Homo sapiens: one gene and its partners. The protein of the gene in region 1 purifies or fractionates together with the protein of each later gene. This does not show direct contact. Each region holds a gene or a part of one and is shown in the gene's direction. Other genes may lie near its edges.

Region 1 (3,500 bases):
CGGGTACACACACACACACACACACACACCCAAACGGGTGCACAACCCACCCACACATGGGCACAATCACCCCCACACACATGGGCACAGTCACCCGCCTGCACATTCGGGCACCGTCACCCCCCGCAAACGGGCACCGTCACACCCCGCAAACGGGCACACTCACCCCCCTGCACACTCGGGCACAGTCATCCCCCGCACACATGGGCACAGTCACAGGTTTTAAAGGCTTTTCTCTTTTTCTGCGGCTTCTTCTCAGCAACTTCTCAATGAGGAGAATTTACGGAAGCAGGAGGAGTCCGTGCAGAAGCAGGAAGCCATGCGGCGAGGTAGGCTGTCTGCTCTCCTGGCTGGGGCGGAGGTGGCGGGGGCTGCTTGTGGACCCGGCGTGCACTCTGAGCCTGAGTTCTGCCGCCCGGCCCCTCATAGCTACCAGTGCAGTGGGCGAGGCCTGCTGGGGCTCCGCGGGGTGGGGCTGCCTCTCGGAAGACACCTCTGTCTGCGAGTGGACGCCAGGATCTGTTCAGGGAGGGCAGGAGCTGCTTCACTTCATGGGAAGTACAGGGGCCTTTTTTTTTTTTTTGAGACGGAGTCTCGCTCTGTCACCCAGGCAGGAGTGCAATAGCACGATCTCAGCTCACTGCAACCTCTGCCTCCCAGGTTTAAGCAATTCTCCTGCCTCAGCCTCCCGAGTAGCTGGGATTATAGGCTCCCGCCACCACGCCCAGCTAATTTTTTTGTATCTTCAGTAGAGAAAGGGTTTCACTGTGTTGGCCAGGCTGGTCTTGAACTTCTTGATCTCATTATCCGCCTGCCTTGGCCTTCCACAGTGCTGGGATTACAGGCGTGAGCCTCTGCGTTCTGCCTAGAACATGGGTCTTTACTGTCCTGGTTTCAGTGGGGATCACAGGTATTTGGTGCCATGTGGCATTTGTTGGCGAGTGCTCCAGGCAAACGTCTGTCACCACTCTTCACCGTGGGTGGGCTTGTGGCGAGGTGTGTGCGTTTAATGTTCAGTAGCCAGGCACGTGGCACGTCACGCGTGTCTGAGTTCTGACAGCTGTGTTTCTGTGTGAGGGGGGCTTCCTTCAGAACTCCGCGTTCTGGTTTTTTGCTTCAAAGAGCTCGTCCTGAGAAGTTGCCTAGGCCTCTGGGTCGGATTTCTGCCCTAATCCATGGGCAGGGCCGGCCTGTGGCGCTGTCCCTACCAAGGTCTGTGTGTGTCTGTGGCATGGACCTGTCCGTGGCCTTAGCCTATTGGCGGCGTGGGCCTGTCTGTGGCGTGGGCCTGTCCGTGGCCTTAGCCTGTCAGCAGTGTGGGCCTGTCCATGGCGTGGGCCGGTCCGTGGCATGGGCCTGTCTGTGGCGTTGGTCTGTCCGTGGCGTGGGCCGGTCCGTGGCGTGGGCCGGTCCACAGTGTGGGTGGAGGTGGACGCGCTGCACTGCATGGTGCTGAGCTGCCCTGCCTCTCTGGGGCAGCCACCGTGGAGCGGGAGATGGAGCTGCGGCACAAGAATGAGATGCTGCGAGTGGAGGCCGAGGCCCGGGCGCGCGCCAAGGCCGAGCGGGAGAATGCAGACATCATCCGCGAGCAGATCCGCCTGAAGGCGGCCGAGCACCGTCAGACCGTCTTGGAGTCCATCAGGTGAGCACTGCCGAGGCCCGGGCCGGCCACAGATGGAGCCCCGCAGGTGTGAGTCGCTGGTCCCAGGGCGCTCTCCAGCTCTTCCAGGCCTTGCCGCCGTAGGCTGACTCCTTGGTGGGGGCACTGCCCCTCTGTCCTGGCAAGGCCGTGCCGCCATGTCAGGGCCTCACCCTCAACCTGCTCTCGCTGCGTGGCACGGATCTTCGTGTCCTTCCTGGTCACACCACTGCTTTCCCCGCAGGACGGCTGGCACCTTGTTTGGGGAAGGATTCCGTGCCTTTGTGACAGACTGGGACAAAGTGACAGCCACGGTAAACATACTCATAAAACAGGGCTGGCAGGTGGCTGAGGGGCAGCATGTGGGGGCCTCCTGGAGCCCCAGGTCCTGTCCCTGCCGGCTCTGCACAGCCCTGTAGCTCTCCCAGCAGGGAGGAAGCCCACGTTGTACCTGCTGGCCTCGGCTTCTCCTCCCTTCTCAAGCTGGGAGAAGAAAACGCAGTTGCCAGCCTGGGCCACACAGTGAGACCCCATCTCTACAAAAAATCAAATATTAGCTGGGTGTGGTGGCAGCCCCTGTGGTCCCACTACTCAAGAGGCTGAGGTAGGAGGATCACTTAAGCCCAGGGAGGTTGCAGCTGCACTGAGCTGAGATCGCAGCACTGCACTCCATCCTGGGCGACAAAGTCCTTGTCTCAAGAAAAAAATTGTCGATAGTCGTGGCTCACACCTGTAATCCCAGCACTTTGGGAGGCAGAGGCAGAGGCGGGCGGATCACGATATCGGGATCGAGACCATCCTGGCTAACACGGTGAAACCCCGTCTCTACTAAAAAAATACAAAAAATTAGCCGGGCGCAGTGGCGGGCGCCTATAGTCCCAGCTACTCAAGAGGCTGAGGCAGGAGAATCACCTGAACCCGGGAGGCGGAGCTTGCAGTGAGTCGAGATCACGCTACTGCACTCCAGCCTGGGCCACATAGTGAGGCTTCTTCTCAAAAAAAAAAAAAAAAAAAAAAAAAAAAAAACCAGAAGGCAACCCTGACTCCATTTTGCAAAAACCTTCTTTATTCCTTATAAAACCCTGAGAGTTTGAAGTTCACAGATTCTTCTCTCGTTTAAAGCCTCACTCTTTTGTGCCCAGCCTCCGGCCTGCTGTGGTGGCGCCCCACGTCCCACATGGCTGTGTCCTCCGTCCCCACCCCGCCCAGCACACGGTAGGTGCCCGGCACTGAGTGGGCACTTGCTCTGCCGTGGTGCCGGCGCCCAGAGCTGTGACTGCAGCGCCTGCCGGTGGCCTGGTCAGTGTGACGGTGAATGTTGCAGGTGGTGTTGCCACCATGTTGGTGAGACCGTGTCACGTGAGGACATGACGGAGCTGCTTAATGCGCCGATGACTTTTGTTTGTTTGTTTTTAGAGACAGGGTCTTGCTCTGTGGTCAGACTGGAGTGCAATGGTGCCATCTCGGCTCACTGCAACCTCCACCTCCCCAGTTCAAGCAGTTCTCCTGCCTCAGCCTCCCAAGTGACTGGGATTACAGGCTCACGTCACCACACTCAGCTAATATAGGCCTGTGCCACCAGGCCCGGCCAATTTTTGTATTTTTAGTAGAGATGGGTTTTCACCATGTTGGCCAGGCTGGTCACGAACTTCTGACCTTAAGTGATCCAGCCGTCTTGGCCTCCCAAAGTGCTGGGATTACACGGGTGAGCCACCGGGCCTGGCCTAATTCATTTTTTGTTTGTTTGTTTTTTGAGACAGAGTTTTGCTCTTGTTGCATAGGCTGGAGTGTAGTGGCGCGGGTCCAGCTCATTGCAACCTTTGCCTTCCGGGTTCAAGAGATTCTCCTGCCTCAGCCT
Region 2 (3,500 bases), about 61 Mb from region 1:
CAAGTCAAGTAGAAGTCTATTTCACCAGGGAGAGCTCAGTGGTTTTCCTTAAGGATTTTCAGTTTAAAAAAAAATATTAGAAGCATTATCAGGCTAGACCCGGTGCCACTGCACTCCAACCTCGGCGAGTGAGACCCTGCTTAAAAAAAAAAAAAAAAAAAAATTAGCATATTCAAACATCAATAAAAGTAAGAACTCATCACCTAGATTCAAAAACAAATATTTTCCCCCATTTGTTTAATCTCTCTTTTTTCTTTCTTAGTTGTTTGCTGTGTTTTAAAGTAAATCCCAGACATCATGCCATTTCACCTGTAAAAACTTCAGTATGTAGCTCTTATAAAATAAGGAGACTTTCTTAACTAAATACAGTATTGTTACAGTTAATAAAATATATATTCCTCAATATTTAATAATCAGTCCATATTCAGTACTCCCTGCATTTTACAGTTGATTCATTCAAATAGAGATCCAAAATAGGGGGAGCGTACATTGCATCTAGTGAATTCCCTTAGTCTCCTGAATGAGAGTGGGCCCCTTTATTCCTGTTGAAGTCCTGTATAGGGTCCTATGGACCTGTCCGGTGGACTATTTGGTTGCTTTCTCAGTCCTTGATTAGATTCAGACACTACTGGTGCTGGGTTTTTAAAATTTACTTAATTAAGAGGGATGAGGCTGGGTGAGGTGGCTCACGCCTGTAATCCCAGCACTTTGGGAGGCCGAGGTGGGTGGATCACCTGAGGTTGGGAGTTCGAGACCAGCCTGACCAACACGGAGAAACCTTGTCTCTACTAAAAGTACAAAATTAGCCAGGCGTGGTGGCACATGCCTGTAATCCCAGCTACTTGGGAGGCTTAGGCAGGAGAATCGCTTGAACCTGGGAGGTGGAGGTTGCGGTGAGCCGAGATCATGCCATTGCATTCCAGCCTGGACAACAAGAGTGAAACTTCATCTCAAAAAAAAAAAAAGGCTGAGGGTGAAATGTGTAATTAATATTGATTCCTTCTCTTTTTTAGTAATCATTTACATGTTTTACATGTTTCCTCTTTTGACCTTTACTCTGGTGTAATCAAGATTTTCTGTATACATTTGTCCCCCTTACCTCCTGTTGCTCATATTTTGGAAGTTACTTTGTGATAAATGAGTGCCGTGTTTTTTAAACAATTTTTTGTAACTATCATGCTTTTTTCTTTTTCTTTTCTTTTTTTTTTTTTTTAGCTGTTCATTTAAAATTTTTTATTTTTTATTTTTTTGAGACAGAGGCTTACTCTGTAGCCCAGAGGCGTGATCTGGGCTCATTGCAACTTCCACATCCAGGGTTTAATTTTTTTTTTTTTTTTTTTTTTTTGAGACAGAGTCTTGCTCTTTTGCTCTTGTCGCCCAGGCTGGAGGCAATGGCACGATCCCAGCTCACTGCAACCTCCGCCTCCTGGCTTCAACTGATTCTCCTGCCTCAGCCTCCTGAGCAGCTGGGATTACAGGAACCCACCACCACGCCCAGCTAAATCTGTATTTGTAGTAGAGACAGGGTTTCACCATGTTGGCCAGGGTAGTCACGAACTCCTGACCTCAGGTGATCTGCCCACCTCGGCCTCCCAAAGTGCTGGGATTACAGGCATGAGCCACCTCACCCAGCCTAATTTGTTTTTTAAAAAAACTGGAGATGAGGTCTCACTGCATTGCTGAGGCTGGTCTCAAACTCCTGGGCTCAAGCAATCCGCTCACTCACCTCGGCCACCGAAAGTGCTGGGATTACAGGTGTGAGCCACTGCGCTTGGCCTGTTTTAAATTTTTATGGTTACATAGTAGATGTATATATTTATTTCCATACAGGCATGCAATGTGTAATAATCACATCAGGGTAAATGGGGGTATCCTATGCACTACCTCAAACATTTATCATTTCTTCTTGTTACAAACATTCCAATTATACTGTTTAAGTATACAATAAGCTATTGTTGAGTGTAGTTACCCTGCTGTGCTATCAAATACTAGATTATTTTTGTACCCATTAACCATCCCTATTCCCTACATCCACCCACCTACTACCCTTCCCAGGCTCTGGTAACTATCATTCTACTCTCTTTTTTTTTTGAGACAGGGTCTCACTCTGTCGCCCGGTACAGTGGCGTGATCTTGGCTCACTGCAACCTCCACCTCCCAGGTTCAAGTGATTCTTATACCTCAGCCTCCTGAGTAGCTGGGACTACAGGTGCGTGCCACCACGTCTGGCTAATGTTTTTTTTCTTTTGAGACGGAGTCTCGCTCTGACGCTCAGGCTGGAGTGCAGTGGCACGATCTAGGCTCACTGCAAGCTCTGCCTCCCAGGTTCATGCCATTCTCCTGCCTCAGCCTCCCAAGTAGCTGGGACTGCAGGTGCCTGCCACCACACCCAGCTAATTTTTTGTTTTTATATTTTTAGTAGAGAAAGGGTTTCACCGTATTAGCCAGGATGGTGTCTTATCTCCTGACCTTGTGATCCACCTGCCTCGGCCTCCCAGAGTGTTGGGATTACAGGTGTAAGCCACCACGCCTGGCCTCTGCTAATTTTTGTATTTTTAGTAGAGATGGGGTTTCGCCATCTCGGCCAGGCCGGTCTCAAAGTCCTGACCTCAGGGGATCCACCTGCCTTGGCCTCCCAAGGTGCTGGGATTCTAGATGTGAGTCGCCGTGCCTGGCCTTTTTTCGCTATTCTCTAGAAGAGTTTGGGCACAGCTAAGATAATAGTTGCTTCTAAATTTTCTGATTTAATTATGAAAGTTGAATGGTGCTCCCATTTTTGAACCATGCTTTATCTGTAGTTGTGTCCCCTTGTTATTCATAGTATTCCTTATTTGTATTTTGGTTTTGTTAATTCTCTATAAGTTTCTGTTTTTCATTTCTTTGATTTGCGCGCATCTCTTTTGGTTTCTTGGGTAGATTTTGCCCTTGATCTGGTAATTTAACTTTAATTTTTATTCTTTCTAGAAAATTCTAAAATTTTAAGTCTATACATTTTCCTCAAAGCACCACTTTAGCTACATTCCCCAAGTTTTGATAGGTAGTTATCATTTTGATTTAGTATTTTAAGTTTCTCCATTAGTTTGACTGAATAGTCATTTTAAAATTTAAATAACTTTAACCTTTAGTATTTAAACATTAAACATAGAAGTTTTTAAGTTTAATTTATCTTTTACTTTTATGCTATCCTTTTTCCTGATTCAATTTTTATTGCAATGAAAAATTTCTGAAATTATTTTTTAGAAACAGCGTCTCACTATGTTGCCCAGGCTGATGTTGAACTTCTGGGCTCAAGTAATCATTCCACCTTAACCTCCCAGAGTGCTAGGATTACAGGTGTGGCACCGTGCCCTGCTTGAAATTCTTGGTTGGGTGCTGAGCATATATCTTTTGCCCTGACAAGAATGACATTTTAGCTGCTTATGTGATTCTTATTTTGCAGGGGAGGGGACAGGGTCTCACACTGTCACCCAGGCTGGAGTGCAATGGTGCGATGTCAGCTC
Region 3 (3,500 bases), on another chromosome or scaffold:
ATACTCTAAGGTTAGAATGACTTGGAACAACTTTATAGGTGTTACAGACTACTTGTGATTTGCTTATAGGAGAAAAGTTTCCTTTGATTTATTATCTAACTTTTATTTCTCTTTTAACAAAAAAAGTTAGTCCCCTTTTCATGAAGAGCTGTATTCCTTGTCTGTTAAGAATTAGACCTAATTTCAAAAATTTACCATAACCTCAGTGGCACTTTTAAAATGTATATTTATGTTATGCAATCTCAAGAGCATCTATTTACATTTGAAAAATAAAAGTGCATATTCAGTCTGTAAAAAATGTTAGATGTGCCGCTCCATTAGTGAACACTTTAATAACTTAGTCTTTTGAGGAACAGGTTGTCCTCATCACGAAAACCTTTGTGTATCTCATAGGAGTACATGGAGAAAAGCCAGATAAAAGTGAAAGGAGAGTTACTATTAAATAACAAATAAGAAACTCAGGGCATAGCATTCTGAGAGGCTGTTTTTTGTTGTTGTTGTTGTTGTTGGGGCATATAACTCTAGATACCCTCACTATGCCCTAAAATCTTATGTTACGGGATAGTATATATAGAAAACAGATGTGAAACATGGGGAAGCAGGAGGGGAAAAATGAACATTGACATCTATAAAACTCCCACACAGTGCATGAATGTTAATGTTAACATGCAGAGACAAATTCCAGTGTTTAACAAACATGCTACAGTGACTTGGAAGTTTAACTTTATTTAATCATCTTGTCAGTGAAGAGAGTTAGCATATATAATTCTTCTTACCAAGGAATCTTCATGTTCCTTTGTATTGAGAATTTTCTTCTACTTTGTCACCCAGTTTTTTCTTCTTCTATGTCTTCTTTCAGACAAGACCTTGAGCAAGTAAGTGGCAATGGAATTTAAAGTAAAATGAATTGAGGGGCATATTAAAATTACTAGAGTTGAAAGGAAGATTAGTAGGTTTAATGTTTATAAATATTTTTAACAGAAGTCTGTCAATTTTAGTTTGCATTTGGGTACTACTTTCTGAATTATAAGTGGTCTTAAAAAGCCTTGTCGTTTGGAAACTTAAATACATTTTGAATTTAATGAGAGAACATGATTTATTTTTGAACTACATAAAAATAAAATATTCCAGCTTCCAGCATTAAGGTAATTATGTTCAAGATGGATGTTTTACATAGGCAGTCAATTCCACACTTAACAGAAAGTCATCATAGACTATGAATTAAGATCAGGAAAAAACTTATTTCATACCAGGAGGCAAGAATCAACAGCAACTAGTAGCTTTTTGGAATTACAAATGTGTTTCCTGCATTCTAAGGAAACACTAGAATACCTATGTTTTCAATAGAGGTTAGGTATCAATTGGACTGCTTGGAAACAAAAACACAATTTTTATAATGATTTCTTTTGAAAAAATGAGTTAAGAAATTTTTAAGATTTTTAATATTTTGGACCACAACATAGCTGGAGCTGTAACAACTTCAAAGTTAAGGACCATGTCTGTTTTATTCTCTATTTGCTTTGTATTCTGTATGATACTTAACATGGTATCTTTCATACAGTAAATGTATAAGTGATGCTTCCTGAAGAAAGAAAGGATTTTAACAGTACTTCTGAAAATAATCTGTTAATAGAGTGTATTATTGTCACTTTATGACCTTCCTGCTGAAAATCTTTAGAAACCAAATATAATTTTGCAAGTCCAGGCACCAATTGTTTTAAAATTAAGACAATAGGAGTATACATATTCTTGTCTGTGATTGGGACAACTTGTAAGCCTAATTGAAATTTTCTTTAGACTTCAGTTTTATAAGTGAAACATTTAAATGTCTGTTTTGACTAACATTACAAGCTTTGACCACATTGTTAAAAGTAATAGCTGAAACTAAGTGCTTGTGTGTGCTAAGCTAGGCTCTGTTTAAACACTTATTATGTACTAGGCATTGCTCTAATTGGTTTACATGTATTAACTCATTTAATCCTCACAAAAGCCCTGTGAAGGGAGATGCAAGCTGAAGAGCCAAATAGGAAATCCAAAGGTCTCATTTATTAATGGCATTTTATGAGTGTCATAGCATTTATTTAAACATAGAGTTGTCATTGGTAATAGAAAGTTAAACAGAAACCCAACTCATGAATCTGAAAATGATCCATTAATAATATATAGTATTGTCCGAAGCCTCCCAGCTGCTGGGAACATTGGGAAGGCATGATATTTGTCTTCAATAAACCATTTTCTTTGTCAGGTTCACCAGCTTATTTTCCTTTCCCCTATAAACATATTCCCCTTGCTTTTGCCCTTGATTTAATAAACATAAAAAGATAACATTTAGATCCATTCACAAGAAACTGTATATGTAATATTTTGATGGAAACATATCTCTTTGGGGAGTGTAATGCGGTAGAAAGTAGACATTTAGTAAAGAGTAAAGAGTAATAAAGGTAATCTCTCAGGAAGTGTAATATTTATCACTTGGACTTTTTTCCTTTTAGTTTTGATTACGAAGATGCAGGCTACCAGACTGCAGAACTTGTAAAAATGGATATTCTACTGAATGGAAATACTGTAGAGGAGCTAGTAACTGTTGTACACAAGTAAGTTCAATAGAAACTAATCATGGAATGTGAAAATACTTTTGATATGTTTTTCATTTATTTTTGTTTGAGCAGCTGCATTTAAAAAACTTCTAAGGTAATTAAAATAGAGTTCACCCTACTAACTTTGCTTTCTCTTTTTTTTCCACACTTCTCTCTAGACTGCTAAAAATAGAACAGAGCTATAATAGTCAAAAAGAACAGTGTCATAGAAATGTTTCCCTTCACCATATTAAAAAAAGTTTTAAACATTTTATAATGATGGATTTAGAATTGGGAACAAGTTTTTTTGTTTTGTTTTGTTTTTTTTTTAGATGGGAGTCTCATTCTGTTGCCAGGCTGGAGTGCAGTGGCGCAATTTCTGCTCACTGCAACCTCCGCCTCCCGGGTTCAAGCAATTCTCCTGCCTCAGCCTCCTGAGTAGCTGGGACTACAAGCGCATGCTACCATGCCCGGCTAATTTTTGTATTTTTAGTAGAGATGGGGTTTCACCATATTGGCCAGGATGGTCTCGATCTCTTGACCTCTGATCTGCCCGCCTCGGCCTCCCAAAGTGCTGGATTTACAGGCGTAAGCCACCGCGCCCTTTTATATTTGTAAAAAAATTATAAAAAGGAAAACCCCCACGTGTTCAAGAAACAGCAGATTGGTTAAAATGAATTACAAAGCACCCATATTGTTATTTTCAGCCATTAAAACTTGTGGAGTAATATTTAGTGACATAAAAATGTCTGTTAAATATAAAGAGGGTAGAATATATCGTAAACACTGATCATACAAAAAAATGCAAAAAAGTGATTAGAAAGATAACTGTTTAAAATAATCATTCCAAAATGTTTAACCGTTTTCAGCGGGTAAGGAAAGAGAATCAAGAACAGTTTCTATTGTCTAATGTTGTATTTCTAA
Region 4 (3,500 bases), on another chromosome or scaffold:
TGAAAAAAGAATAAAGCATGTTGTATTCAAAACAATCAGGTAATTTTTGTTTGTTTATTTAACTCATTCTTCAAGATAATATCCATGGGTGTCCTTTAAGAATAATGATCAACATATTGCAGTCCTGCAAAGACCTCCAGTACCATAATTTGGATCTCTTCAAGGGACTTGCAGATTATGTGGCTGCAACTTTCGACATCTGGAAGTTCAGAAAAGTGAGTACATTAACAATTTAGAATAAGCCTCACAAACTTTTAAAACACTAATTCATGTAGCATTTTAAGTATTTCTCTTTCACCTTTATAGTAGTTAAGATACCAAAATATTCCAATGCTGAATTGACTTTTGAAAAATTAGCTCCTTATTATTCCTGTCTGGGGGCTACTTGCTAATATGAATAGTCCCCAACTTAGGATGGCTTGACTTAATATTTTTTGACTGTTTGATGTTGCAAAAGCAATACGCATTCAGTAGAAACCATACTTTGAATTTTGAATTTTGTTGTTTTGCTGGGTTAGTGATATGTTGTATGATGCTCTCTTTTCATGCTGAGCAGTGGCAGCAAGTCGCAGCTCCCAATCAGCTGTGCAATCATGAGGGTAAACAATGCATATTGTATTCAATAAATTACTTGAGATATTCAACACTTTTATTATAATATAGGCTTTTTGTTAACTCATTTTGCCCAACTATAGGTGAATGTAAGTGTTCTAAGCGTGTTTAAAGTAGGCTAGGCTAAGCTATGATGTTCAGTAAGTTGGATGTATTAAATGCATTTTGACTTAAAATATTTTCAATTTATGGTGAGTTTGTTGGGATATACCCCACCGTAAGTCAAGGACAATCTGTATACTATTCTATCCTTTGGTCATCTTTCTATTTGAAACAAAAATTTGCTCTTCTTTTTCGTTTTAAAAGGGTTGTATGGGCTGGGCGCGGTGGCTCACGCCTGTAATCCCAGCACTTTGGGAGGCCAAGGTGGGTGGATCACCTGAGGTCAGGAGTTCAAGACCAGCCTGGCCAACATGGTGAAACCCCATCTCTACTAAAAATACAAAAAGTAGCCGGGCATGGTGACGTGTCCCTGTAATCCCAGCTACTAGGGGGGCTGAGGCAGGAGGACCACTTGAACCTGGGAGGTGGAGGTTGCAGTAAGCTGAGATTGTGCCACTGTACTCCAGCCTGGGCAATAAAGATCAAAACTCTGTCTCAAAAAAAAAAAAAAAAAAAAAGGGTTGTATGGTACTTTTGTTAGATATTTAGCATGATTTCCGTGTTTATACTTTGTTCTTGTTAGATTTCAAATAATAAAGATGGGTGATGTGACAGGCTTGGGGTTTTTGAAGAATAAAATGTCACTACTTAATGGTCATGTCCATTGTTTTATCCAGAGTAAAAGCCTTTAAAATCAGGAGCTGTGTTAAGAATATAAACATTTAATGAAGCACCTGGTAAAAACTTCTTTTTGCAATGAAATAGGTGATAACTGTTAGATCTCTAGGTTCAGTTTATTTTGGAGAGTAAGGTAAATATTGAGTTTACTGTGGAAATTGGTTATAGAAAGAGAAGTAATAATCCTAAGTAAGAAAGATTGAGAAGGAAATTGGAGGTGAACTTGAAAGTTTATTTTAATCATAATGTTTCAGTTCCATTTTCACTTATAGGTATGAATATTAAATATAGAAATTTTGGGGTTATGTCTTACATGTTAGAATCTAGGAAGTATTTAAGTTTGGGAATGCGAGAAGTTCAAGATTGAGTTGGTCATTTTGAAAACCTTCAGAAAAGGCATATTTAAAAGTAATTTTCAGATATGTTGTATGAAAAGCATGTAGGAAGAGATTTATTTTTAAATCAGATGGAAACGTAGAAATCATTGTATGCCCTGGTTCTCAGCTTAAAAAAGATTGCTTATTAACTTGATACCCAATTCAAGAATTAATAGAACAGATTTTGTGAGAGAAAGATGATTGTTCCTTTTCATGGAAATATTCTGTTTCAGGATATATTCTGTTGATCAGGACAGTTGAATTGCTGCTTAGATTTTTTGAGATCTAAAAAATTACTATTAGCATACTGTAATTATTATAGAGTTTTCCCTCAATTTTCTCTTTTTAAGGTTCTTTTTATCCTCATTTTATTTGAAAACCTTGGCTTTCGACCTGTTGGTTTAATGGACCTGTTTATGAAGAGAATAGTAGAGGATCCTGAATCCCTAAACATGAAAAACATTCTATCTATTCTTCATACTTACTCTTCTCTCAATCATGTCTACAAATGCCAGAACAAAGAGTATGTACTTGTTTTTTTTTACCTTTTTTATTGCCATATAACTTACAAAAAAGGTTATAAATCATAAGCTTAATGAATTATTACAAGTGAACACACCCATAGTCATCATCCATGCCAATAAATAAAACATAGTGTTCCTTACTCATTTATAAGGTTAAACAAAATTTTGTTTTATATTTGCTGCCCTTTGTCTTGTTTGTTTCTTTGTTCTTTATAATGTATTAGTTAATTCATTATAGGAGTTTGATTTCAAACCCTCCCAGCTTATCCTCGTAGCTCCTAAGTTCATAGTTTATTTTAACTGTATTAAAAAATGGAGAAATCTGTCTTTTAAAAAATTTGACTTTTTTTATTATGGTAAGAACATTTAGTAAATTTTAAAGTGTGCAGTACAATATTGCTGACTTTATTATTAATGATATAGTTAACAATATTGTACAGTGGATCTCTAGGACTTAATCATCTTGCATAACTGAAACTTTATACCTGTTGAATAGCAACTCCCCTATTTCCCCCTTTCCTCACCCCTGACAATCAACATTGTAATCTCTGTTTCTATGACTGACCTTTTTAGATACTTTATATAAGTGGAGTCATGCGGTATTTGTCCTTCTATGACTAGCTTATTTCAGTTAGCATAATGCCCTTCAAGTTGATCCACATTGTAGCATGTGATGAGATTTCCTTCTAAGGCTGAATAATATTCCATTATATGTATATATCACATTTTCTTTATCCATTCATCTGCTGATGGATGTTTAGGTTGTTTCCCTATCTTGGCTATTGCAAACAATGCTGCACTTAACATGGGAGTGCAGATGTCTCTTTGAGATTCTCATTTCAATTCTTATGAATTGAAATATATCCACAAGTGAGATCCCTGGATCATACAGGGATTCTGCTTTTACTAAGGGTTCTACTTTTACCAAATGCCTTTTTTTTTTTTAGCATCAGTTGAAATGATCATATGGTTTTTATCCTTTATTCTGTTGATATGATGTATCATATTGATTGATTTGCATATGTTGAACCATCCTGGCATCCCAGGGATAAATCCTGCTTGGTCATAATGAATAATCTTTCTAATGTATTGTTGAATTTGGTTTGCTAGTATTTTTTTTGAGGATTTTTGCATCAATCTTCATCAGAGATACTGTGCTGTAGTTTTTTTGTTTGTTTTTTGTTTTTTTTGATGTGTCTTTGTCTGA
Region 5 (3,384 bases), on another chromosome or scaffold:
CAACACACGTCTTTGAGCCTTGCCATCAGCTTATTGGGGGAATGCTGTCTGCGGGGTTCTGATTTTTGTCCATTGGCCTTTTCTAAAGTCTGACCTTGGGGGTCAACAGCGCATGCTCCTTAAGTCGATGCTAGGGACTGGCCGTCCACCTTGGCAGGCCCATGTGAGAAAGGGGCTGTGGGGACCTCTGTGTCCTTGGGTGGTGACCTGCTGATAGCTACCCCGTTTCCCGCCCACCCCTGTTGTGAGTGGACACGCGGGGGTCTGCAGGGTTAGCTACCCTGTTTCCCGCCCACCCCTGTTGTGAGTGGACACGCGGGGGTCTGCAGGGTTAGCTACCCTGTTTCCCGCCCACCACTGTTGGGAGTGGACACGCGGGGGTCTGCAGGGTTAGCTACCCCGTTTCCCGCCCACCACTGTTGGGAGTGGACACTCAGGGATCCGCAGTGTTAGCTACCCCCTTTTCTGCCCACCCTGTTGTGAGTGGACACTCGGAGGTCTGCAGGGTTGGTGTGTCGGGCTGCCTTGGCCTAAGTGTGTGACATGGACCCAATCTCTTCTGTACAGGTACCCCCTGTACCGGCTGGGTGGCCCACAACTTCGGGTGTTCCGAACCAACTTCTTCATTCAGCTGGTGCGGCCCGGTGTGGCCCAGCCCGAGGACACCGTGCAGTTCCGGATCCCCATGGAGTGAGTCCGGGAGGATTCCGGCTGGGGTTGGGGAGCACCCTCGGGGGGATCCCCGTGGAGTGAGCCCGGAAGTTTTCCCGCTGGGTTGGGAGAGTGCCCTCAGGGGGGCCTGGGTCCTGAGTTAAAACAACTCTGCTCACGTGCTAGCCTCTTCCTGCTGGGAAGGCACCTCAGGCGGCCCTGCCCGGCAAGTATTGATGGAGTGCCTGTAGGTGTGGAGCCCGGCAGGCAGGCTGCACGCCGCCCTCCACCCGGGGACGGCTTCACTGGAAGCCTTAAAATTTGGACCTCTGTGCTCGCGTCTTCTGTTGAGTTCTTGCAGCTTCTTTTTAGGAGAGGCGCCCTGAGAGGCTGGGTTGGGAGCAGGCCGTGATGTACAGAACCGCTCAGAAGAGCCTGCTTGACCTTCAGAGAAATGCACAGTCCCTACGAGCAAAACTGGGGTGCTGCTCTGCAGTGTTTAAGTTCACAGGTCCCCAGCTCAGGGTTGATGCGAGCCAGGCGGGGCAGCAGCGTGAGCTCCCCTGGGGGCGAAGGTCAGGCCTGTGCAGCCTGCAGGGGCCCAGAAGCTGAGTTGACAGTGACCGTGAGGTTCTGCAGTAGAGGGAACTTGCAGTTAACGCACCGAATGCCAGGCAGGCCTTTCCAGAAGGTACTTCCTAGAACCGCATCAGTCCCATCAGCCGCAGAGCAGGCCTAACCCTGATGCGGCCACTGGGCCCCGGGGCAGACGAGGTGGGGCACCTGCCAGCCAGGAGCGTGCAGAGACTGTCACCTCCTCTCACAGGCACTTGCCCGGAGCAGGGAGCCATGTGGGGCTGTGGAGCAGGCCAGGGGTTGGTTGGGCAGTGCTCCCACTCTGTGGGGTCTGTGCCACTGCCACCCCATGCTGGTGTGCCCAGAGTAGGGAGTCTTGCAGCCAGCAGCACTGGTGTTGCTGGGGCTGCCTGGCCTCACTAGTGCCGCTGATGTACCCAGCCCTCCTCCCTGCCCCCTGTGGGTCTTGGTCTGTCGGCCTCTCAGCCTCGGGTGCTTGTGCATCTGGGACAGTATTTTTGGCTTTTAGCCTGGTTAAGATGCCGTTTTCTTTCTCCTTCGCCTCCAGAATGACAAGGGTGGACCTCAGGAATTACCTCGAGGGCATCTATAACGTGCCCGTGGCTGCTGTGCGGACACGGGTGCAGCATGGTGAGTGCCCATGGGAGGTTCTCCTGTTGGTGTCGTGCCCATCTGTGCCACATGCCCACCTCGCCGAGCCACAGCCTCAGCTACTGCATGGGGGTCTTGGTCTGACGTGGCTCATGGGAAACTGAGGCACAGGGTGACTTGTCAGGGTCACACGGTGCTTACGTGCCAGAGCAGGGATTGGAATTCAACTGGGCTGGCCCGGGGTCCATTCTGAGCCCTGACTCCTGCCGTCAGCCCCCGAGGTGGGACTGCAGTGGCTGAGGCTGGGGAGCAAAGCGCTGTCTGTTCCATAAGCCCCTGTCGTGTGCCCTGGCTGGTGCCACGTCCGCTCCTTTGTTGAGAACCTGCTGGCCTCTGTTGGGAGAAGGGAGGAGCCTGGGAGCCTGCTGTGCTGGCTCGTTTGATTACAGTGCCCATTTCCCTGAGAAATCGCCTTTTTGAGTTTTTAAAAACATATTTACATTTTTAAGAGAGCAGAGGTTCGTTTTAGTGGCATTGACCTCTGAGGATGTAATTTTTTAAAGTTCTGATTTTTTTAAAGTTCTGATTTTTTTTTCACTCCCTTCCGGCAGGCTCTAACAAGAGAAGAGATCACAGAAACGTGAGGATCAAGAAGCCGGACTACAAGGTCGCCTACGTGCAGCTGGTGCGTGTGAGCTGGCCAGCCCCAGCGGGGCCTCCGAGGGGCTCCTCGCAACTGTGTCCTTGGGGATGTTTGTGCCGGAGACGCTGCGCTGGGGCCCAGGGAGCCCCCGTGAGGCCGGATCTCAGGGCCTCAGCGCAGAGGCAGGCTCCACATAAGGTCATGCTCCGTCACGGCCTTGGGGGTGTTAGTGGTGGCGCTGGGAGCACGTGAGCACTGGGGCACATGGGGCACGTCTCAGCGTCCGGCCGTTTTGTGATTTTGAAGTTTGAATTCTCTGTGGGCAAAGGCAGCCATCACAGGCCTAGTGGGTTTCAACTCCAACGCACACCAGGGTGTCAGAGCATGGGAGGCCCCGGCCTCTGGAGAGCCTGTCCTTGGCTGGGTTTCAGCCTCGGAGGCAGAGTGTGAGGCCCCTGAGGGCAAAGGTCTTTGGTGCCAAGGCAGGTCTGGCTGGCCGGGCTGTTGGCTGAGGCCCATGTCCTGCATTGCAGGGTAGCAGGTCCCACGTACTTGTTAGGGCTCAGCAGGCTGCTTCTGAGCAGGTGCTTTCTTACGTATCCTGGGGGGCTCTGGGGAGGAAGAACCCTCACCCCACGTTGCCTGGGCCTTCAGTTTCTGAAACCCAGACTTGTCAGGAGTGAGACCCACAGTTTCAAAGCCTTTCTTTGGGCTCTTCATTTTGAGTCCCAGGCAAACCCAGAGGCACTTTCTCTCTGGGCCAAGATGTCCACAGCCTGCCCCGGCCGCCTCCTGGGCCTCCCCACTCTGCCCCTGGGGCTGGCCTTACTGGGTGGGGATGGGGTTGTCTTCCGGTGTAAATGGTCCCTGGAGGCCGAGCCGGCGGGCCCTGCCACTAGATG
Region 6 (3,500 bases), on another chromosome or scaffold:
GAGGGAAATTGGTTTATATTCTGTTCACACTTGTTTCAAACCCTCTCCTCTAAAAGCAATGTGTTTTTGGAATTCAAGGAATGTACGTTCTTTCCCCAACCTTAACTGGGGGTCAGTCTTATGGCCACCATATTTGTCTACAATATAACTTTTAAAAAATATAATTTTTGCCCTCAAATACTCTCCTATCCAATGCAATGTAACTTTGAAGGAGAAGTGATGAAGGCCACTGGTTGCCAGATTGTATCACACAGCCAGATGCACTTTGCTTTGATGAAGAATCTAAGTGATGCAGGCCCCCACTTAGCTTTGTAAACTAAGGCAGGGGTTTATGTCAGCTCGAGGTAGAAAGCAGTGAGAATTGGCAGCTGATGGAATAGAAAGGGGACAAAAAGAATAAAAAATAATTGACTTTAGTCTGCTTTCCATTACCGTAGCCCAACTCTCTGGGGCCATTTGTGTGGTCTAGACAACATTCTTAGAACTTGACAGTCCCTGAGAACGATATTCTAGGTTGGCATGGGCAATAGTTGGCATTTACACTGGTCTTGGAATCATAACATTTGAGAAGTGTAAGGCACAAGAGTCCTCATCTGCCCAATCCCCTTCATGTTGCAGGTGAGGAAATTCAGGCCCAGTGCTGTTAAATTACTTGCCCAAGGTCACAGGTCTTTGCTAGTGGCAAAGCCAAAACCGAAACGGGAGACTCTTGAATTCTTAGAAGCCTCATTCACCAAGAGAAGGTTAACTGTGTCTCATGAACCCTATATGGGAAAATTGGGGTGTGTAGGACACATTTTAGATTTCCTTCAGGAGTGGTTACCTTTTTTAAAAATGCGCACATAAAGAAGTGTCCTTTAAACAGTTGGCTGTGGGGGTAATGACTTATTCCCAAAGATACAAAATAAGCAAGGCTACTTTGGATGTTAAATGAAAGGGAATTATTTAAAAAAGGAAAGAATGACTCTTCAAAACGTGATAGTAATATTTTTAAAGATTTATTTGATATTCGCAAATTTGTCTTCTGTGGTTATATCAATTCTGTTGCTCAAAAAGTGACACATGCTTCATAGAGAATAGAATCTAAAAGGATTTTTGAGACTTTCTTGGGGAGAAGGACACACAGTGCCCCTCTGGTAGTAACGGAGTTTTGTCCTGGGCCACCAACATCCTGAGTGACTGTCATGCTTTCAGAGGTCCCCAGCCCTTGCCCAGTAACATTGAACAAGGTGTTCTTCCTCTGTGGTTAGCTCCAAGATTTCTGGTTTAGCAAAGTGGCTAATCAGTTAACTCTTTAAGAGGAAATTGTCATTCCTTTAGCCAACGCTAATTTCCTTAAAATGCCTTCTTTTCCTTTTTGGAACTGAGAAAGCTTAAAAATAGAATTGCTTCAAGCCCTGAGGCCTGAAAGTGAAACATAATCTAACGTGGCTGTAGTGCACTGACTCGTTAGGGGCAGCGATATATGGCTTATCTGTAATCCACAAACCAGAAAGGTGCCCAGTGTAGATACGGTCTAACAGCCAGTGAGCATTAAGTACCAACTGATGAGAGTAGTAATCAGTGAAGCTGATTTCCTCTGGAAAGTTTTTTGGCGAGTAGAGTTTGTCTTAGAGAGTGGAGGATTTGAATGCCTCTTGACTTTCTGCTGAGGAGAGCTTCTGCCTGCTCTAGTTTTTATGATCCTGAAGGGTGGTAGCTCTGGACTCTGAGAATGATGGGCAGTGAACTCAGGGTCTGTATATTTCGTTCCACTCTGCTCTTCCCCATTTCTGATGCTTTGGGGGCTCCATTTCTGATACATAACCAGAGCAGCATCCCTGAGGCCCACACTATCTCCTGTGTGCCTTTCTGCATCTGGCAGTCCCTTGGAGAGAAGGAGGCTCATGTGTTTATAACCTGCACCCTGTCCTAAAAGGCATAGTGAGGGGCAGCTGAGTATAAGGTCAGGCCACTTAGCCTGGAGCCAGAGTGCCTGTGTTCTTGTTCTGGCTCTGCTCACTAGCCCTGTGACTTTGGGCAAGAAACTTGGCCTCTATGTTTTCATTTCCTCATCTGTAAATTGGGAGGAATGATAGTACCTACCTTATGGGGTTAGGAAGTTGCAATGAGTTCTTATTTGTAAAGTGCTTAGACCAGTGTCTGGCACGTAGGAAGGATTATGTGTTAAGTAGAAACATGGTATAATTGCCCTTCCTTCCACAGGCATCTCATGGGCTGTCCTTTTGTGATCCATTTTCTTGGTTTGTTTTTGTTTTGAGACCAAGTCTTGTTCCGTTGCCCAGGCTGAAATGCAATGGTGCAATCTTGGCTCACCGCAACCTCTGCCTCCTGGGTTCAGCCGATTCTCCTGCCTCAGCCTCCCCCGTAACTGGGATTACAGGTGTGCGCCACCACGCCCAGCTAATTTTATTTGTATTTTTAGTAGGGACGGGGTTTCACCATGTTGGTCAGGCTGGTCTCGAACTCCTGACCTCAGGTGATCTGCCCGCCTCGGCCTCACAACGTGCTGGGATTGTAGGCATGAGCCACTGTTCCTGGCCTGATCTATTTTCTTAACTAGCCCTTAGTGTTCATTTCACCCCATTGCACCTCTCTAAAAATGGTGATGATGGGAAGGAGAAGTAAACCGTGGAATGGCTCTCGCCTAATGCAGTCTTTAGGGTCTAGGGTCTTTGTATTTCTTTATAAGCTGCCCATTGACTTGGGAAAAAGAACTGAAGAATAAGCTTCTTGTAGTAGTGCTATCAGTAGTGATAGTGTCATGAATAAAACCTTTATTTCTGTGATTAAATGTATTAATAAAGTGACACTACTAGCATGAATGACACTATTAACATAATTTCAATCCTGTACAGTAAACCATGGCTTAAGACTGAATGGCAAGAATCAGGGTGTCTGAGCTGCTGGGCCCTGCCAGACTCGGAGCCCCTGCCAGTGTGTGTATATCAAGGCAGGGCGGGGGGTTGTCTTGCTCTCCAGAGGCAATGGAACCTGCCTCTAGGCCTCCCTTTTCCCTTCTCATCTCCTCACCCCTCCTTTTTTATGTTAGATCTATTCCTACCCCTTCCCCTTCGCCTTGCCCTCTGCCTGGCTCTTAGAAGGAAGCAGACTTGCCACCTTCAGTGGCTGCTTCCCGGACTTACCAAATTAATTACCACCTTTTCCTGCCATCAAGGGATGGTGAAATCTTGCCTTTTCGGTCTTGCTTCCCATTCCTCTGCACTCGGCTGCTGCGACAGTGTGGTGCTGCAGGCACCGCAGATTTCCCTCTGGTGTGTTTGCTCGTAGCTTCTCCCTCTCCACCTTACTCCTTTTGTTGCCCTCCTCCCACTGGCCCATTGAGGCCCACATCAAGGGAAGGCGTAGGCACAGCCTCCCCCAGTTTCCCAGGGGCTTGGGCCTCTCCCTTCCCTTGGGTTACTGCTTCTTTCCTGTAACACCTCATGGTCTGCCTCGTAGCCTAATCTTGCATGTTCATGACTTACTCCTCCTCCAAA
Region 7 (3,500 bases), on another chromosome or scaffold:
AATGGGGATAAAGTAACTGACTGGAAAGTAGGCTACAGGGTAGAAATCGACAGATCTTTAGTAGAAAAGGGGATTTCAATGAAAGGAGGCAGTATTAGCAATAAAGTCATAACATAGAAAAGTCACTGTCTAGTCTAATCATTTACAAACTTAAAAAGAAGTAGAAGCTTTTATTCAAATCAAAACTTATGTAGAATACCAATATGATAAATATATAAAGGTTGAGCCGTTTGGGTCGAAACAAGGTTTGACATGTATAGGAAACAAAATCCCATCCCTCTTGAGCCTCTCTATCTCTATCCTAGTGGGCCCTAGAGAGCACAGTTTAAAACAGCTGAACTAGGCTGGGTGCAGTGGCTCACACCTGTAATCCAGGTGCTTTGGGACGCCAAGGCAGGAGAATTTCTTGAGGCCAGAAGTTCAAGACCAGCCTGGGCAGGATCGTGAGATCCCATCTCTACCAAAAAAAAAAAAAAAAAAATTAGGCCAGGCATGGTGGCTCATGCCTGTAATCCCAGCACTTTGGGAGGCTGAAGCGGGTGGGTCACCTGAGGTCAGGAGTTCGAGACCAGCCTGACCAACATGGTGAAACCCCGTCTCTACTAAAAATACAAAATTAGTTGGCTGTGGTGGCGCATGCCTGTAATCCCAGCTACTTGGGAGGCTGAGGCAGGAGAATCACTTGAACCCAGGAGGGAGAGGTTGCAGTGAGCTGAGATCTCGCCATTGTACTCCAGCCTGGGCAACAAGAGTGAAACTCTGTCTCAAAAAAAAAAAAAAAAAATTAGCCAGACGTGGTGCACGTCTGTGGTCCCAACTACTCAGGAGGCTGAAGTGGGAGGATTGCTTGAGCCCAGGAATTCAAGGCTGCAGTGAGCTATGATTGCACCTGTGCACTCCAGTCTGGACAGCAGAATGAGATCCTGTCCCACACACAAAAATAAAGAAACCCCCCCCTGCAATGTAGCCTGACCAGCAGGCAGATGTTAGACATTAATGTGTAATAGGGAAGCATTTTCCTCAGGCTTTCAAAGATGGGAAATTATTGTGGATTGTTTTCTTACCCCCTACCAGAAAAGAGTGCTTCACCATTGAGGTGGCCTGCTGGAAAAATCACTCCACTAATTTGAGAGTCTTCCCTTGAACTTTTGTGGTTCTGGCTTTGTGTTTTTTAGCTCTTGAATGTCGTCTCTCAACTAGCCAAACGGAATCTGCGACTGCTGGTCCTAGGCCGGAAGCACATGCTAAGACGGAGTTCCCAGTGGAGTCGGGATGAGATGGAAGAGGTGCAAAAGCAAGCCAGCTGTTTTTTTGCTGATGACATGTAAGTGTTGGAGGTAATAGGTGAATTATACTGTGCTGCAGACATCTATCTGCTTGTTAGTTACCTACTTTAAACCTATCTTTTAAATGCATGTGTATGTGTATACTCACCCTCATTAAAAAAAAAAAAAGATTTGAGACAACTTACAAAACTACGGTTTCTTCTAAAAAAGAAAAACACTACAGTTTCTACGGCAGGATAAACTTAAACAGATGAGGAAATCAGGATAAAGGAGAAGTGGAGGGAAGTTAAGTCAGGAGTGAGATTAGTACACCGAATACATGCCATAAGATCCTAAGTAGATCATTTAGCAAATACTTGACAAACAGGAGCACCTTCTATGTTCTTGGAGAAAGAGCAGTGAAAAAGACAAAGTCCCTGCCCTCTTAGAATTTACAATAAACAGATAAACAAACAGGTAATGTCATTCCAGGCAGTGATTAGTACTATGGGGACAATAAAGCAAGGTAGATAGAATTTAGGTAAGGGATAGGTCAGAGGGTTGTGAATGGGGTGGTCAGGAACAGCCTTTCTGAGGGGGCAGATTCGATGAGGAGTGAGTTATTTGAGAAATGGGGAGAGGTGGTGGGAAGACCATCCCAAATAATACGAAATATTTAAAAAGCCCCGATGCAGGCCGGGCTCAGCCTGTAATCCCAACACTTTGGGAGGCCGAGGCGGGCAGATCACGAGGTCAGGAGATCAAGACCATCCTGGCTAACGGTGAAACCTCATCTCTACTAAAAATACAAAAAATTAACCGGGCATGGTGGCGGGCGCCTGTAGTCCCAGATACTGAGGAGGCTGAGGCAGGAGAATGGCGTGAACCCGGGAGGCGGAGCTTGCAGTGAGCCGAGATCGCGCCACTGCACTCCAGCCTGGGCAACAGTGCGAGGCTCCATCTCAAAAAAAAAAGGAGCCCAAAGGAGCCCTGAGGCAGGCATAAGCTTGGCATGTGTTTGAGGAAAGCAACACGGCCAGTTGGGCTATAATAGCAAGAGGGAAAGTAATAAGCTCTGAGATTAGAGAGAAGGCAGAAACCGCAATGCAGAGGACCTTGCAGATCCTGGTAGACAAGCAAGAGGCCTAGATTTTATTCTAAGTGTAGGGAGAAAATTGCTGTTGAGCTGCAGCTTCCCAGGAAGCCAAAGGAACCATGGTAAACATGGTCAGTAACAAAACCTACAGTAAGCCAGCCACAGTGGCTCATGTCTATAATCCCAGCACTTTGGGAAGCCAAGGCAGGCAGATCACTCAAGATCAGGAGTTTGAGACCAGCCTGGCCAACATAGTGAACCCCATCTCTACTAAAAATACGATTAGCCAGATGTGGTGGCACACGCCTTGTAGTCCCAGGTACTCGGGAGGCTGAGGCAGCAGAATCACTTGAACCTGGAAAGCCGAGGTTGCAGTGAGCCAAGATCGTGCCACTGCACTCCAGCCTGGGTTACGGAGTGAGACTGTCTCAAAAAAAAAAAAAAAAAAAAACAACCCACAAACCTACAGTAGCCATAAAGTAAGAAGAAAATAGCTAATTAGGAGGAGTACAGATCCGCAACAGCACATATGAACTCAATGCACTGTTGTGCATTGAGGTTTTCATATTGTTTGTGCTAACAAAAGTTTATTTCCAACTTTGCTTAATGAGTGTATATGCCTCAGCCCCAAATCTAGGTTTCATAGTCTGAATGTGATAACTTCAAGATTTGTCAGTATTCTCCAAATCATTTATTTTATTGAGACGGAGTCTCACTGGGTCACCCAGGCTGGAGTACAGTGGCACAATCTTTGCTCATGGCAACCTCCACCTCCCGGGTTCAAGCGATTCTCCTGCCTCAGCCTCCCAAGTAGTTGGGATTACAGGCACCCGCCACCATGCCCAACTAATTTTTGTATTTTTAGTGGAGATGGGGTTTCACCATGTTGGCCAGGCTGGTCTCGAACTCCTGACCTCATGATCCACCCACCTCAGCCTCCCAAAGTGCTAGGATTACAGGCATGAGCCACCTCGCCTGGCCCCCAAATCATTTATTATTTAAAAAGTACAGTAGCTCTCAATCATAAAGCAAGGGAGAAGCAAACCTCTCATCCAGTTCCCAAACCACATCCCTTCTTTTTTTAGCTGGAAGATGGTGCTTCCATTTCTCCAAGAGCAGAAGACCTAATGGCAACATTG

The links.
Region 2: the proteins of ATAD3A (region 1) and L1TD1 purify together in Homo sapiens (co-immunoprecipitation; one large-scale study listed by IntAct). This does not show direct contact.
Region 3: the proteins of ATAD3A (region 1) and GUF1 purify together in Homo sapiens (tandem affinity purification; one large-scale study listed by IntAct). This does not show direct contact.
Region 4: the proteins of ATAD3A (region 1) and FASTKD2 purify together in Homo sapiens (tandem affinity purification; one large-scale study listed by IntAct). This does not show direct contact.
Region 5: the proteins of ATAD3A (region 1) and MRPL23 purify together in Homo sapiens (tandem affinity purification; one large-scale study listed by IntAct). This does not show direct contact.
Region 6: the proteins of ATAD3A (region 1) and E2F3 purify together in Homo sapiens (pull-down; one large-scale study listed by IntAct). This does not show direct contact.
Region 7: the proteins of ATAD3A (region 1) and PRORP purify together in Homo sapiens (tandem affinity purification; one large-scale study listed by IntAct). This does not show direct contact.

Annotation. Positions count from the first base shown.
Region 1 is NC_000001.11:1,518,662-1,522,161, forward strand, and holds part of ATAD3A (ATPase family AAA domain-containing protein 3A), read left to right. Parts: intron 1-259; coding exon 260-329; intron 330-1,479; coding exon 1,480-1,645; intron 1,646-1,886; coding exon 1,887-1,956; intron 1,957-3,500. UniProt on the Homo sapiens protein: Essential for mitochondrial network organization, mitochondrial metabolism and cell growth at organism and cellular level. May play an important role in mitochondrial protein synthesis. May also participate in mitochondrial DNA replication.
Region 2 is NC_000001.11:62,201,349-62,204,848, forward strand, and holds part of L1TD1 (LINE-1 type transposase domain-containing protein 1), read left to right. Parts: intron 1-2,098; exon of another isoform or gene 2,099-2,209; intron 2,210-3,500.
Region 3 is NC_000004.12:44,691,920-44,695,419, forward strand, and holds part of GUF1 (translation factor GUF1, mitochondrial), read left to right. Parts: intron 1-2,492; coding exon 2,493-2,594; intron 2,595-3,500. UniProt on the Homo sapiens protein: Promotes mitochondrial protein synthesis. May act as a fidelity factor of the translation reaction, by catalyzing a one-codon backward translocation of tRNAs on improperly translocated ribosomes. Binds to mitochondrial ribosomes in a GTP-dependent manner.
Region 4 is NC_000002.12:206,772,106-206,775,605, forward strand, and holds part of FASTKD2 (FAST kinase domain-containing protein 2, mitochondrial), read left to right. Parts: intron 1-75; coding exon 76-215; intron 216-2,119; coding exon 2,120-2,292; intron 2,293-3,500. UniProt on the Homo sapiens protein: Plays an important role in assembly of the mitochondrial large ribosomal subunit.
Region 5 is NC_000011.10:1,950,332-1,953,715, forward strand, and holds part of MRPL23 (large ribosomal subunit protein uL23m), read left to right. Parts: intron 1-567; coding exon 568-690; intron 691-1,795; coding exon 1,796-1,878; intron 1,879-2,450; coding exon 2,451-2,524; intron 2,525-3,384.
Region 6 is NC_000006.12:20,408,379-20,411,878, forward strand, and holds part of E2F3 (transcription factor E2F3), read left to right. Parts: intron 1-3,500.
Region 7 is NC_000014.9:35,265,552-35,269,051, forward strand, and holds part of PRORP (mitochondrial ribonuclease P catalytic subunit isoform 1 precursor), read left to right. Parts: intron 1-1,175; coding exon 1,176-1,324; intron 1,325-3,500.